Regions from separate parts of the Homo sapiens genome. Here regions 1 and 2 are each linked to region 3. Evidence: fine-mapped expression QTL. A gene starts in region 3. Each other region holds a variant in brackets. All regions are shown on one strand. Distances are between the middles of the regions.

Region 1 (5,221 bases), 31 kb after region 3:
ATTTTGACTTTCAAGTCTTGTTATTTAAGAAATACATTTCATAAGGCAATAGATAGTGATTCCTCTGGTGGATCTGGGCAAAGTCAACTGAAAAACTTCTGGAAAGGATTCACCATTCTAGATGCCATGAAGAAGATTTGTGATTCATGGGAAGAAGTCAAAATATCAACAAACATTGACAAGAGTTTGATTGGGTTTTTTGTTTGTTTGTTTGTTTGTTTTGTTTGAGACAGGGTTTCATTCCCATTGCCTATGCTGGAGTGCAACAGCGCAATCTCAGTTCACTGCAACCTCCTCCTCCCTGGCTCAAATGATTCTCCAAGCTCAGCATCCCGAGTAGCTACAGGTGCCTATCATCACACCTGGCTAATTTTTGTATTTCTGTATTTTTTGGCTGGGCTGGTCTCGAACCCCTGAGCTCAAGTGATCCACCTACCTCGGCCTCCTGTAATGCTGGGATTATAGGCATGAGCCACTGCGCCCAGCCAACATTGACAAAAGTTTGGAAGAAGTTGATTCCAACCTCATGGATGACTTTGAGGGGTTTGAGACTTCAGTGGAGGAAAGAGCTGTAGATGTGGTGGAAATAGCAAGAGAACTGGAATTAGAAATGACGCCTGAGGATGTGACTGAATTGCTATAATCTCATGAGAAAACTTTGAACAGATGAGGAGTTGCTTCTTATGAATGAGCGAAGAGAGTGGTTTCTTTAGATGGAAACTACTCCTAGTGATGATGCTGTGAACATTGTTGAAATGACTGCACAGGATTTAGGATATTACATAAATTCAGTTGATAAAGCAGTGGCAGGGTATGAGAGAATGGACTCCAATTTTCAAAGAAGTTCTACGGTGGATAAAATGCTATCGAACAGCATTGTATGCTGCAGAGAAATTTTTTTATGAAAGGAAGAGTCACTTTATGCAGCCAACTTCGTTGCTGTCTTATTTTAAGAAATTGCCATGGCCACCCCAACCTTCAGCAGCCACCACCCTGATCAGTCAGCAGCCATCAACATTGAGCCAAGACCCCCACCGGCAAGATGATTACCACTCACTGAATGTTCATGTGATTGTCTGCATGTTTTTTAGCAATTATATATATATATATAAAGATGTGATCTCTCTGTGTTGCCAGGCTGGTCTCAAACTCCTGGCCTCAAATGATCCTCCTGCCTCAGCCTCTCAAAATGCTGGGATTATAGGTGTGAGCCACTGCACCCAGCCAGAAATAAAAATATTTAAATTAAGGTATGTACTTTGTTTTTTTAGACACAATGCTATTGCACACTTAATAGACTATAAATAGACTATACTATAACGTAAGCATAACTTCTATATGCACTGGGAAACTGTGACTCACTTTCTTGTAGTATTAGCTTTATTGAGTGGTCTGGAACAGAACCTGCAGTATCTCTGAGGCGTCCCTGTTGGTCATTTGCAGAAGTAAGAATAAAGGGATGGTGAAATACAACTTCATTAGACATTTTAGAATGAAGACATAGCAAACTGAACTTTTTATTCCATGTTTGTGATTTTGAAGGTATATTGGTAGCATCCTTTGAATGCAACTGGCTACTTATCACCTGCCTTGCATGAGCCTGGAACTCATCCACCTTAAAAGTGCTAATTCCAGGTTTCAACTGCACTTCTAGGGGTGTCTAAGCTAACATTACTTTTCCTTCTTCTTGCACTGATGTTGTCAAAATGTGATATTTGGATGAACTTTTTGAAATCGTTGACACTTACAATTTTGTTGGAGACAGTGTGGCCATTTTCTTTGTTCCATGATTGCAAAACATTTTCATTTTTTGATCTATAAACACCCATTAGAATGATCAATTAATTTAAAATTTTGCATTATCTATTTCCTCTCAGTATCTTTGTATAAACACCTGCTTTTGGCATTTGTCCACTTATGAAATGTATCCCATTTTGTTCACAAACATCAAAAAATGTGAAAGTATACCATCATACATCCTTTTAGAAAAAATGCAGTGGTCCAAGTTCTTATTACAAAATATTGAGTGAAGTCTTGCCTGTTAATTGAATGCAAATTTTTTGTGTCATTAGAAATATGGATTTGAGAAAATTTGTCTGGGATATGGTCATCTGAATGCTCACTGAAATTTATCCCATTTGATTGATTTCACCATCATCATTAGCCTCTGGCTAATGGGACAGAGTGGCTGTCTGTCCCTTCTACCATATATATATATATTTTTTTCTTTTAAAGAGACAGGGTCTTGCTCTGTCACCCAGGCTGGAGTGCAGTGGTGTGATCATAGCTCACTGTAGCCTCTAGCTCCCAGGCTCAGGCAATCCTCCCACCTCAGCCTCTGGAGTATCTGGGACTACAGGCATGCACCACCACACCTGGACAATTTTTCTTTTCCTTCCTTCCTTTCTTCCTTCCTTTCTTTCTTTTTTTTTTTTTTTTGAGGTGGGGTTTTGTCATGTTGCCCAGGCTGGTCTCGAACTCCTAGGCTCAAGCAACCCACCCACCCCAGCCTCCCAAAGTGCTGGATTACAGGCCTGAGCCATGGAGCTTGGCCTTCCCCTAGCTGCTTCTTCTTCTTCTTCTTCTTTTCTTTCTTTTTTTTTGAGATGGAGGCTTGCTGTGTCTCCTAGGCTGGAGTGCAGTGGTGTGATTTCAGCTCACCACAACCTCTGCCTCCCAGGTTCAAGCAATCCTCCCACCTCAGCCTCCCAAGTAGCTGGGATTACAGGCATTCACCATCACGCCTGGCTCATTTTTGTATTTTAAGTAGAGATGGGTTTGGCCATGTTGGCCAGGCTGGTCTCAAACTCCTGGCCTCAAGTGATCCGCCCACCTCAGCCTCCCAAAGTGCTGGAATTACAGGCATGAGCCACTGTGTTGGGCCTTCCCCCGCTTCTAATTGCCTATAATTATGAATGTCTC[C/T]CTCAGTCAACTTTCTTCTCCTTGCTGTTATGGGTGAAAAATGAAAAATTCAGAATGCTTGATTGTATTGTTCAATAAGAGTGAAACAAAGGAAAGCCTGTCATCTCCAGAATTATCTTCTACCTTCTTGAAAGTTGATGCAATACTGTTAGCAATGTAGTGAGAAAACGGAAGGATACTGTGGCAGAGATGGTTTATTTCATTCTGCTTTTTAGGCAAGTGCATCAGCTTTTCATTTTTTTGTTATTTTAGTCTCTTTTAGCATAACTGGAAATACTTAAATGAGTGATGATGAAATAATTCTCAGGATGATGAAATAGAAAAATATTTCAAGATACAGGAAAAATAAGATTCCTGATTCCAAAATATATCTTAGATTTACAAAAGGCTTGAACCAATCCCTGTAGGAATTGCAAGACAGAATGGGTTTTGTTCTGTAGAAGGTCTCTAAGACAGAATAAAATTCACAAACTATTAATCCTTATACAGTGCTAGAACTACTCAAAAAGTAAACTAAAAAAATAAAAATAGGCCAGGAGTGGTGGCTCACGCCTATAATCCCAGCACTTTGGGAGGCTGAGGCGGGCAGATCACTTGAGGTCAGGAGTTCAAGACCAGCCTGACCAATAGGGTGAAACTCCACTTCTACTAAAAATACAAAAAAATTAGCTGAGTGTGGTGTTGCATGCCTGTAATCCCAGCTACTCAGGAGGCTGAGGCAGGAGAATCACTTGAACCTGGGAGGCAGAGGTTGCAGTGAGCCAAGATTGTGCCACTGCGCTCCAGCCAGGGCAACAAGAGTGAAACTCTGTCTCCAAAAAAAAAAAAAAAAAAAAAAAAAAGAACTCACTGGACCCTGCTGGTAAATTGAAGATTAATATCATTGAATATCCAACTGCCACATTAAATGTACCAAGTACCAAATTAAATTGCTCTGTTCAAAAAAACGTCTTTTTATAGTTGAGTTACTTAAATCAGGATCTAAATAAGATCTGCTCACGGTATGCACTGCCGTCTTGAGGTCCTTTGAAAGTGTCTTTTAATTTAGAACTGTCACCCCTCCTTAGTTTAATGCCATTGACTCATTAAAGAAACTGGGTCAGTTGTCCCGTACATGTCCCACATTTTGGATTTGACTGATTCCCTTCTCACAAGGTCATGGACCTGCCCCATATTTCCTGGAGTCTGCATTGGATCGAGGCTCAGTTTTGTCTTTGGTGGTGGTGGCAGGGGCTCCTCACCCCTGCCTGGCTGCACTGGTCTGCATAGAGGTCTTCTCTCCCTCCTGTGCCCTCACTCTGCCTGATCTGCCAAGGGGCCGGGAGTGGTTGGCTAGGGCCCGGCTGCTCCCACCTCCTTTCTGTGTTGGGGAGTAGGTGCTGGCTTAGAGCCCAGAGCTCTGGGTTTGGGCCTGGCCTTGCTACCCACCAGTTTGGGTTGGGCTTTAGTGTCCTTACCTGTATCCTGGGAATTATGTTACTTGTCCTGTTTACCACTCAGAGTTCTTGTAGGGATAAAAAAAAAAAAAAAAAAAAAGGACTTAAAAGGCTTTGGAAGCCATCAAGAGCTAATTAGGGTGCTGATGATTCTCCCCCTTAGCTCTGCAATGCAGGACTCCCTCATCCTGCCCCGCCCGGACAGCTCACCTCCTGCGTCCTGCCTCCTGCCCCCTCACCCCGCCCTGAGCACCCGGCTGTGTCCAGGGCTGATCTTTGCTGTGCACCCCACGTGCTGCTGGGGGTTCTGTAGTAGGCTTCAGGCCCTGGATGAGGCCAGGCTGAGAACCGCTGGTTGACACAGATACAGACCACTGGGTGGGCATCAGGGTGCTTGCTGCTGGGATACAGGAATATTTTGGGGCAAAACTCTAGGAAGCCTGTTTATAAAAGGCTGCTCCATTTTGGCCTGCAGAGAAATGAACTTTTGGCATATGAGTTTGGAATCTGGAGGAAGAGAAGCTTAACTGACTTCTGAAGCAATTTTTGGAGCTTTGTATTGGAATATGAAATACATACAGAGAACCGCAGGTACCTAAGTGTGGCCCCATGACCACTCATACACCGACCACTTTGGAGGAACTGGCACCCACATCGGGAAACAGAACATCACACCCCCTCTCAGAAGCCCCCTTTACGCCCTGTGCTCGGTGCCCTGCTGGTGATCACTATCCTGATGTTCCCGAAGCATTTTAAAGGCTGGTTGTGATGAACTATAAAGATGGTTGGACTGTGCTCAAAGCAGATCCAGCCAGTCCCTCCCTGTCATCAAGTCCCATGAATGTGCCCTTCCCGCCAGACTT
Region 2 (5,221 bases), 25 kb after region 3:
TTCATGTTTTCGAAGGGTTGGTCTGGTCGCTGCATGGAGGATGGAGCCTGGGGGCCAGGGTGTCAGGGGCTGCCAGCTGGGACGCCTGTGCCACCACTGGGTGAGGAATGGCGGCGGCATGAGCTGTGGTGTCGGTGGCTGGTCTGTTTGTTAACCTGGGCCCTCCTAGAAGGAGCTGGGGAGGGCTATGGATCTGTGCTGCAGGTCCGGCCCTGAGGAAAGGGCCCACAGGGCCATTGGCAAATCTCCTGTCCCCTGGGAATGGGCCTGCCTCGGTACCCTTGCCGTGCCAGACCACTGGCTGGGAGCAGCCTGGGGGAACATGGATTTCAGAGCCCAGCACCTGGGACCAGGGCCGATGACACTTCCTGGGGCTGTGGGGGGTGAGGGAGGTGCATTCTCACAGCCTCCACACTCCCCCAGCGTGAACAGCTGGACCTCTCCCTCACCTTGCCTCCGTGAGGATGCATGGAGGGTCAAGGGGATTGTGGCCCTGGCCTGTGCGTCTGTCCCCGCTTCCTCCCTACTTGCTGATGCTCCTGTCTTTTGCTCTGGGGGCCAAGCCACGTTTGACGGGCGTTGGGGTTAAAATGGAATGTGACTGTATTGCTGCTGCAGGTCCCTTTGGAGAGAGGATGGAAAGTCAGGTCACGAGGCGTAGGGAAGAACGTAGGTTAATTAAAGTTTAAAACGCCTCTTTCCGCAGAGGTTCCTTGAGTCAACCCTGAGCGAGAGAGGCGCTGGGAGGGTCCTGGCTGCCTGGGGGCTGTGGCCTTCGGATGGTGCCAGCAGCATTGTCCCCATGGAAGAGTGGCCTGAGTGTGCCTTCAAGCTTTAATGCTTTTAAGCAACATTGAAATTCATCCCTGTACATCCTCAACTGCCTGGGAAACGTCCTAATTCAAGCGGAGAATCTGGGTCAGCTGTTTATAGAATAGTATTTGCTGAATGAAACTGGTGGCCCAGACAGCGGGGGACTTCTTGGGGGGTGGACGCTGGAGGGGACCCGGCCGTGAGCTCACGCGTGTCACCTCTGCTTTGTGCTACACTGTCACTTCCATTCTCAGAGCGTGTTAATTGAGCATTGCAACCTCCGTGGACCATCCGGGGAAAAGGCAACACCACAGCGTGGCTCGTGGAAAGGCTTCTCTAGAGGACGAGGTGGCAATGGCAGGAGCTGCCTTACTTGTAGCACAGGGGACCTGGCCACCATGAGCAGCTCTGTGCCCTGCCCACACCCCCGTCCCCAACACACAGGCGCACATATGGATCCGTGTGCAGCGTGTTGGGTCGGGGAGCCCGTGCCTCTGGGCTGGGCTCTGAGACTCTGTGGGCTCTGGGACTGTGACTTCTTTGTCTTTTTAAGCTCTAGTGCTTGGCTCAGTGTCTGATGTTTTTGGGTAACATAACAAAGATTTGTAGAATAAGTGAGGGAGAGAACGATCTTTGTAAACTCTCCGAATCTGAAGACAGCGCTTAGTGGTGCCACGGTGTTGCAGGTTATTTTGTAGATGAGGCCAGAGGGGCCCTGGGAGGAGAAACCACTCCTGGGAACCAAGGCTGGAAACCGGATGCTCCTGGCACAGCCCACAAAACAGCCGGGGCCTCCTGTCTCGGGCAGAGGCTTCTCCCTCTCGGTGTTTCTTCCTGATTGGGGAATAGAGGCTGGCCCTGCATCTTTGCTTTCTGACTTTTCCCACTGACCCCCAAGCTGAGCCCTGGGAAGGTGGAGGCTGCATTCTGCCCTGAGGCCTTCCCCCAGAAAAGCTGTCCCCAGGCGGAGGCTGCGGCGAGGGGCTGCCGCATCTATTCCTGGGTCCCTGGTGAGAAGGGTTGGTTATTTGACTCCAACCTGTCTCTGTTATCATTGTCTCTAAGTACTTACTATTATGACTCCTGAGTGTGTGCATGTGTGTGTGTACTTGTGTGTGCGCACTGGGCAATAATGTAAACCTATTTCTTATAGTGGGGTCACAGTCAAAAGCTTGAGAAGCCTTCAGAGAGGCTCCATCCATATGTGGGTATGTATGGGGCAGGGGGAGTGTGGAGATAGATTTTCCCA[G/T]CGTTCTTAAGGTAGAGAATTTTCCAGCAGTTTTCAAGAGTGATCAGGAAAGGCTAGAAGAATGTTGGGAAGAATTGCTTGGGTCAGCCTCCCTTGGTTATTTATTTATTTATTTATCTATTTATCTATTTATTTATTTATTTGAGACAGGGTCTCACTCTGTCACCCAGGCTGGAGTGCAGTGGTGTGATCTCGGCTCACTGCAACCTTTATCTCCTGGGTTTAAGCGATTCTCGTGCCTCAGCCTCCCAAATAGCTGGGATTACAGGCGTGCAGCACCACACCAGGCTAATTTTTGTATTTTTAGTAGAGATGGGGTTTCACCATGTTGCCCAGGCTGGTCTCAAACTCCTGACCTCAAGTGACCCGCCCACCTTGGCCTCCCAAAGTGCTGGGATTACAGGCGTGAGCCACCACACCCAGCCTTCCTTGGTTATTTAAATGATGGGCAAGCAGGCCCCAGGATGAGCACACAGGGCTTTCGCTGCTAAAACCAGGACGAGCTGGTTGTGCTAGTGGGCCCCACTGGACCAGGAGACGTTTCAGCTTAGAAAGCAGCTGCACATCTTGGAGAGACTCTGGGCAGAGCTGTGAAGGAGACCGGCCTGGATGGGTTGCCTGACCCCCCGGCACCCTGGCTGGAGCTGGGTAAGGGCATGTAGGGGCCTGTCATCAAGCCTGGCCCTGGGGACCACTGTGGTGGCCTGGCAGAGAAGGCAGTGCCTTCCATGGCTTCCCCAGCCTTCCTATGGCATCCACTCTTGGCCTTCTTGGGCACCTGCCAGCCTTGGTTTCTCACAAACTTTTCTGCTGCCATTGCCTGGGGAAGGAGGTACCCAAAAACATGGCACTGATGGAGCTTTAACTTCAGGGATTCTGGCAGTTTTTGCTGGGATCCCCATTTGTCAGCTGCTGTGCTGGGGAGGGAACAGCCCCCCACCAGTAGTTGTCCTAAGATCAAGGCCTGTGCCTTGATGGACAGGAGCTGGGATTCCATCTACCCTCAGACTGACCTTCTCAAGGCCGGTTGACTGAGTGGTGTTGATAAGACCCGCCTTGGAGCCTCCCTGGGGGCCTGAGCTCCTCTCCCTCTGGACCACCTGCTGGGCTAGGACTGGGTCTCAGGCTCTGGGGCAGCCAGGATAGACCGGCCGGTGGGGCTTCTGCTATTCCCAGTGTGGAGGTGGACACGTTCCATGCCAGGGCCTGACTAGGGCATGTCATTTGCACTCCCAGTTGTGCAGAGTGACAGCTGCATTGCTGAAGCATTCTCCTGTTCTCGTTTCTGAAGAAAAGTATTATGGAGAGGTCCGACATTCACAGGAGCAGAGCAAACAGCAGCACTCACGGCAACCACTCGGCCTTGCCAGCCACCCTCGCTTTGCCCAGCATCTCAACAAAGCATCCTGGTCATTTATTTTCCTTCCCTCCTTCCTTCCTTCCTTCCTTCCTTCCTTCCTTCCTTCCTTCCTTCCTTCTTTCCTTCCTTCCTTCTTTCCTTCCTTCCTTCTTTCCTTCCTTCCCTTCCTCCCTCCCTTCCTCTTTCTCTCTTTTTTCTTTCTTCTTTCTTTTTTCTTTCTTTCTTCTTTCTTTCTTTCTCTTTTCTTTCTGTTCTTTCTCTCTCTCTTCTTTCTTTCTCTCTCTTTCTTCTTTCTTTCTTTCTCTCTCTCTCTCTCTCCTTCCTTCCTTCCTTCCCTCCTTCCCTCCCTCCTTCCCTCCCTCCCTTCCTCCCTCCCTTCCTCCCTTCCTCTTTCTTTCTCTCTCTCTTTTTCTTTCAAGAGAGGATCTTACTCTGTCACTGAGGCTGGAGCATGGTGGCATGATCATGGCTCATTGCAGCCTCTACCTCCCAGTCTTAAGTGATCCTTCCACCTCAGCCTCTTGTGTAGCTGCGACTACAGGCACTTGCCACTGTGCTTCGCTAATTTTTGTATTATTAGTAGAGACAAGGTTTTGCTATGTTGCCCAGGCTGGTTTCAAACTCCTGAGGTCAAACAATCCTCCCACCTCGGCCTTCCAAAGTCCTGAGATTACAGGCATGAGCCACCACGCCCAGCCCAAAGAAGGTCATTTTCCCTTTCTTTCTTTCTTTCTTTCTTTCTTTCTTTCTTTCTTTCTTTCTTTCTTTCTTTCTCTCTCTCTCTCTCTTTCTTTCTTTCTTTCTTTCCTTCTCTCTCTCTCTCCCTCCCTCCCTCCTTTCCTTCCTTCCTTCCTTCTTTCCTCTCTTTCTTTTTAAGAGACAGGGCCTCCCTATGTTGCCCAAGCTGGTCTCATACTCCTGGACTCCAGGGATCTTCCTGCCTCAGCCTCCCAAAGTGCTAGGATTACAGGCATGAGCCACCACGCCTGGCCAAGGTCATTTTCTTAAGTAACTAAAGGGCCCCTGTTACACCTTACAGCATCGACAGCAATTGCTTCCCCCTCAGCGTCACCACTGGCTCTGTGGGTCCAAAGGACCCTTTACATTTTCAACGTTTAAGTCATTTTAGAAATACAGGCAAACCTCATTTGATTGCATTTCACTTAATTGCATCTTGCAGATATTGTTTTAATGTTTAAACAAATTCAAGGTCTGTGAGCAAATCTATCATTTTTTCCCCAACAACATGTGCTCACTTCATGTCTGTCTTGTCACGTTTTGCTAATTCTTACAGTATTTCCAACTTTTTCATTAGAATTATATCTGTTACGATGATCTGTGATGTTACCATCATCACTGTTTTGGGGGACCACAAACCGTGTTCTTCTGAGATAGTGAACTTAATGGATAAACGTTGTGTGTTCTGAGTGCTCCTCAGACCGGCCGCTCCCCCATCTCTCTCCAACTCCTCAGGCCTCCTTAAGCCAAGATAGGCCAAAAGCTAGGTCTCTTGCGACAGACAGCCAAGTTGTGAACACAAAGGAATAGTTCTTGAAGGAAATTTAAATGTGCTACTCCGGTGAACACATGGATGATGAGAAAGTGAAACACCCTCACTGCTGCTATGGAGGGAGTTGGAGTCTGGATAGATCAAACCAAACACAACATTCCCTTAAGCCAAAGCCTCATCCAGAGCATGGCCCTCACTCTCTTCAATTCTGTGAAGGCTGAGAGAGGTGAGGGAGATGCAGAAGAAAAGTTGAAAGCCACCAGAGGTTGGTTCATAGAAAGAGGGCTTT
Region 3 (5,221 bases):
CGATAGCCACAGGCTTTACAAGAATTACCTATTGTTTGCTTCTTTGGATTGACATGCTGCCAAAAAAATAACAAATGTTATCCATAATATAACATGAAAATATCTAATCAGAGGACATCTAAACCACAGACAGCTTCACATGCAAAGAAAACTTTTTTCACACAGTGACCTACTTTAAAAAAAAGAATGGAAATATCTCGAAAACTGGAGTTTTGTGTTTGATTTAAAATTACATTTGCTCTGCCTTCTCAGGAAGGTGACTTAGCGGTATCACAGAAGCAGGTATATGGCTTTTTCTTTCGACAACCACAAAAGCACTTACCAAATCTGTTTCAGGATTCTCACATTCAGGACAGAGAACAAATTTTTTAATGAATCCATCCAACATGTCTTGCAGCTTATTCGCCTCATGAGATCCATTGACAATGTAACGGTCATTCTTAACATCAAACTGGGTCTGTGCTCCCAGCTCACAACCAAAATATTTGGTGGGATCTATTTGAATGAAAAAGGAGTTTGGATCGTTACAGTTAACTAGATCTCTGGCTACTCACTCACATTTGTACGAACACCACTTTTTTTTTTTTTTTGAGACAAGAGTCTCACTCTGTCACCCAGGCTGGAGTGCAACGGCGTGGTCTCAGCTCACTGCAACCTCCGTTTCCGGGGTTCAAGCGATTCTCCCCCTTCAGCCTCCCAAGTAGCTGGGACTACAAGCGCATGCCACCACGCCTGGCTAATTTTTGTATTAGTAGTAGACTCAGGATTTCACTATGTTGGCTAGGCTGGTCTAGAACTCCTGACCTCGCGATCCGCTTGCCTCAGCCTTCCAAAGTGCTGGGGGTTACAGGTGTGAGCCAACGCGCCCAGCCATCCACTCTTTAAATGCGTTCCCCTGGTAGTTTTGTAAACTCATGGCAACCAATAAACCACGGTTCCTCACTTAACTTGTAAGGTAATTAGCTAGCATACAATTAGAACAAGTTTTGCAGCTCAAAGACTTTGAAGACTCTATCCATAATATGCCCTGTGGACTTTTCCAAGCTTTACTTACACGTTGGAGGCCGATTAAGCGCCTTTGCAACGTCAACCATGTTGACTATAACTGTCTTGATTCCATTGCCTTTGCCCTCAACCTAAAGGAAATAAGAATTTTAGTTGTGCAGTTTCCCCTGACAAATGCAAACTTCAAAATTCTACAAAAAGAGCTATCAACTAAATTGAAGAGCAGTTTATTACCTTGGCAATCAGACGGGGCATCTTGTAGCGATAGAACTGGTCTGACACGCTGCGGTTGACATTGACAGACATTTTGGCTTATTAGTGGCTTTATCAATAAGATGAAGAGATCTTTGATTGCAACTTTTTGGTATCTTCTGTCTGGAGAAGAAGGGATGACATAAACGACTGCAAGAGTTCTCGGTCTCTGACATGAAAAAATTTTCGCCACTGAGGCTGTAAGCTTCTTGCTTGTATGCTATGTTTCCCCAATACAGGTACCAATGGCTGCGCAACAGCTCTGAAAGAAAAAGGGAAAGAACACACAAAAATCCCCCCAGGTTTAACATCATCGCTGGATGGAAACGCCTCCTTTTTACATCCTAGTTATGCTTCTGCTTAACTCCACCTTAAAAAGCATCTGAGATCACATGCAAACAGCCATTCTCATGTAACACAGTACAATCTGCGGGAACATAAAAAGGCCTCCATTTCGACTAAGCTGTGACTGGTAGGGAAATGCCTGACAAGAAAACACAAGCTGTGCTGCCTCAGCCGCCGTGAGATTCCATCAGACCGAGGGCAATCAGCAGGTTTGCCTCTGCGGCCATCCTGGAAGTGCTGAAGAACGAACCCGAGCCCTCTCCGCCGCCCACCCCGCCTGGATAAGCAAACTTCTCAGGCACACCCCCGTTCGTCTTCATTTTTAAGGGCAACCTAGGGAACTGTTCTCTACAACTAATCGTTGCTTCGGCAACCATGGCTTACTTCAAAGCAGCACTTCCTTAAACGCAGCGCTCGCCCACAATTTGCCATTAAGCAAGAGAGCGCGAGCGAACGCCAGGCTCGCCCCGGCCTCCCTTTTCCTCGCTATTCAAATACTCGGTTAACCTTCGCCCTGGTCCCCATGGCTACCGCGCTCCGAGGCGTTTCCGCGGGGGCTGGCGAACCGGGCAGCTCCGCGAAGGAGGGGGGCGCGCGACCGGGGCGTCTGGCCCCATCCCCAGCGCGTCCCCCGAGAGCCGGCGGCCCCGGAGGGTGCACAGCCGGGAAGCGACACACGGCCGAGGGGTGCCGGGATCGGGCCGCCCCCGCCCCAGAGCGCGCGATGACTCACAAATGCAGCAGCTGAAGCCTGAGTCAGCCCGAGCGGCGGGCACGCGCGACGCGCTCCCGCCATGCCGGGGAGGGGGCGAGGCCGGGCCGGGGAGCGCGCGGGGAGGGGGCGGCCGGCGCCCGGGCCCGCGCCCGCCCGCCGTCCGCCCAAACTGCGCCACACGCCGCGGCGGGGTCACGCGGCGGCCGCCGCCATCTTGTGCGGCCGCCATCTCCTGGCCCGCCGCGCCCGCGACTCACCGTTTTCGTCAAATAAAGACATAAACCCAACGCTGCTCGCCCGGGACTGGGATGAAGTGAGGCGCGATATAAACCCGAGTCCGAGTCCGAGGAGGCGGAGGCGAAGCGCAGCGAGGAGCGGCCGGGCCAGGTGCCGCCGCCGAGCAGCGGGGAGGGGCTGTCCCAGCGACGTCCGCGGTCCACACCCGTCAGCGCCGGAGCTGGGCGACCTGGCGCGGAGAGACGGCGCCGTGAGCCGTGGGCGGTCGGGGAGTGCACCTTCCCCGCCAGCCAGCGGCCCGAGGGGTCGAGGGGGCGGGAAGCACCGGGCAGGGGGCCGCCCCTTCACCGGACTCACCTCTGGAATGTTCTCGCTCTGACTGAACAACGCCGCCGCCGCGCTCAAGCTACCCTCGGCCCCAGCGTCCGCCCCCCGCGTCAGGCCTCACTGCCCATTGGCTGGAGGCCTGCCACAGCTCGCTCGTCATTGGTTCGCTTGCGACGTCAATCGCATCTTTCCGCGCCCCTTCTGCTTCCTGAGGCTCAACTCGCGGCCTCGGCCCGCCTCCAGCCCCGGTCTCGCTTCCTTCCTCTCCCCTCCCCCCGCCTTTCCCAGAGGTCTTCGCGGCGCAGCCCTTGGGTCTCGCGAGACCCGGAGTGGCCCTGGTGGCGGGGCCGGGGTACCGGGGGCCGTTCTTTGTCGGTTTGGGCCTTGAGGGGGAGATGGTGGTTGGTCCCCTCCCTCGCCGGGTCTGGGACAGGCCGCGGCGTCATGGCGACTCCCGGGACGCAGGAGCCATCGTCCTCGAAACTGCTTTCGAGGCCGTGTTTTTGCGGCTGCCACCTTCGGGGAGAGGAACCCGACCGCGTTCTCCCCGCAGCGGGCGCTCATCTCCCTTTCCCGTTCTCCCGGGACGCCCGACTCCGGGCCTCGAGGAATGAGTTGTTTTTCCACCTTAAGCCCCAGGCCTGGGTCTTTCATCCCAGGGACGTCTTCTGTTTCGGACTCGGGGTGGATTGGCCGCTGGCGGAACGAGTCCGTGACTCGCCAGTGACCGCCCAGGGCGGTCGCGAGGCCGCGCCGCCTCGGTGTCGGCCCGCAACCCAGCCTGCGCGCTTAGCTCAGCGCGTCGCCTCCCGTTTTCGGAAGAGGAGGCCCTTAATTGGTTTGGAATCCTGGGGCCTCCTGAAGGCGCTTCGTGGTGGGTTCCCACCTTCTGGTGAAGGCCTCCCTGCTCTCCCAGGGTTGAAAAGCGCTATCCTTCGTGCTTCTCTTGTCACCTTTCTCCTAGTGGGCATCACGTCGAGTCCACCCCCTCTAGTTTATGACTTGTGAATTCTTTGATAAGCAAATCGTAGCCCAGAGCAGGCATTTATAATGAGATTCCAATGTATTCCGTTGAAAATTACTATTATTTAGGCCGGTCGCGGTGGCTCACGTCTGTAATCCCAGCACTTTGGGAGGCTGAGGTGGGCGGATCACCTGAGGTCGGGAATTTGAGACCAGCCTGGCCAATATGGTGGAACCCTGTCTCTACTAAAAATACAAAAAATTAGCTGGGCGTGGTGGCTCGCTTGTAATCCCAGCTACTCGGGAGGCTGAGGCAGGAGAATCCTTGAACCCGGGAGGCACAGGTTACAGTGAGCCGAGATCACACCACTGCACTCCAGCCTGGACAACAGAGCGAGACTGTCTCCAAAAAAAAAAAAAAAGAAAATTTTTATTATTTAGAGAGAGGCTCTCATATTTTAGTTCTGTTGAAACTCTCCCATTCTTTCTGAAACTTGGATTTTTTTTGTGAAAACTTGAGTCTTAAAAACACATCCATAGTTCACCCTGAAGTTTGAAGACCTCACTTGACTGATGGAGCGAGAGCCCCGCTAACCTGCACTCTGGTCTCTAAGGTGCAGTCATCGAGAAGTCCTGAGCGGCCGTGCAGGTTTCCCGATCTGGAAAAGAGAAATGTTGCTGAGGACAGGATGAGGTAGATAAGGGGCTGCCCTTTGTTTTGGACCAGTTGCATTTGCACTGAGGTTAGAATTGGCAGCTATGTTGATTTTTATATCAAAATCCAAGATCGTGCTTCCATAACTAAAAGCTTTATAAACAACTTAAAAATTGGCAGTGTTGGTAGGAAGAAATAAAGGCACAATCCAGAATTGAGAGGTGATTTGTGTCCTTTAGGGCAGGGACTTTTATAATCCCGCAGTGTGTACCTTGGTGTATAGTTGTTAAGCCAAGTGCACAGTGCCTTGTGAGTACCAGGGTTCCCATCAGACAAACTAGAAAAGGGGATCCCAGACATGCTGCTGCTGTTTCACTGTGGAGCATGACTTAGCAGTATTGAAACAGATCTGACTTTTTGCTTGGCAGCACAAAAATGATGTTATTTTAGAAACTCTGTTGGAAAGTATAGGCATGAAACTAGTCTGAGGTGAGAGGCCTGCCTTTTCAGAAAAGTTTTAATGAAACACGAAGTAATTAGCTTTTTTGTATGTTTAGTGGCACAATTTTTAATTTCGTTGAAGTTTGTAATAATTTTAACTGCTTTTTAATATGTGTACCACTCATTTGTATGCAACCATGGACAACTTAAAAAAATACTTTTGTGTTCTTTTTCTCCCTTTTATTTTTAGTTAATACATAATAACACATTTGTGGGATACA

The links. PIP is the estimated chance that this variant, and not a neighbour inherited with it, causes the effect.
Region 1: its variant is the best candidate, but not a certain one, in a credible set for the expression of EIF5-DT in putamen (GTEx, PIP 0.51).
Region 2: its variant is the best candidate, but not a certain one, in a credible set for the expression of EIF5-DT in anterior cingulate cortex (GTEx, PIP 0.68).

What each region holds. Positions count from the first base shown.
Region 1 is chr14:103,301,074-103,306,294 of GRCh38, reverse strand. All of the region lies in intron 1 of LOC105370686 (a long non-coding RNA gene), which reads left to right. Among named protein-coding and RNA genes, the nearest start is that of EIF5, 31 kb to the left of the region's middle. RefSeq lists an enhancer at 3,949-4,449. The variant C/T (reference allele first, on the strand shown) is at 2,923.
Region 2 is chr14:103,307,323-103,312,543 of GRCh38, reverse strand. All of the region lies in intron 1 of LOC105370686 (a long non-coding RNA gene), which reads left to right. Among named protein-coding and RNA genes, the nearest start is that of EIF5, 24 kb to the left of the region's middle. RefSeq lists an enhancer at 693-1,669. The variant G/T (reference allele first, on the strand shown) is at 2,063.
Region 3 is chr14:103,331,951-103,337,171 of GRCh38, reverse strand. EIF5-DT (EIF5 divergent transcript) reads left to right here and starts at 2,512. Exons shown (of 1, transcript NR_158216.2): 1 at 2,512-5,221. It overlaps EIF5 (eukaryotic translation initiation factor 5), which reads right to left and starts at 2,935. Exons shown (of 12, transcript NM_001969.5): 1 at 2,912-2,935; 2 at 2,575-2,783; 3 at 1,240-1,519; 4 at 1,055-1,136; 5 at 323-495; 6 at 1-56. The coding sequence starts at 1,311. RefSeq lists silencers at 2,080-2,319, 2,430-2,479, 2,620-3,039 and an enhancer at 3,360-3,479.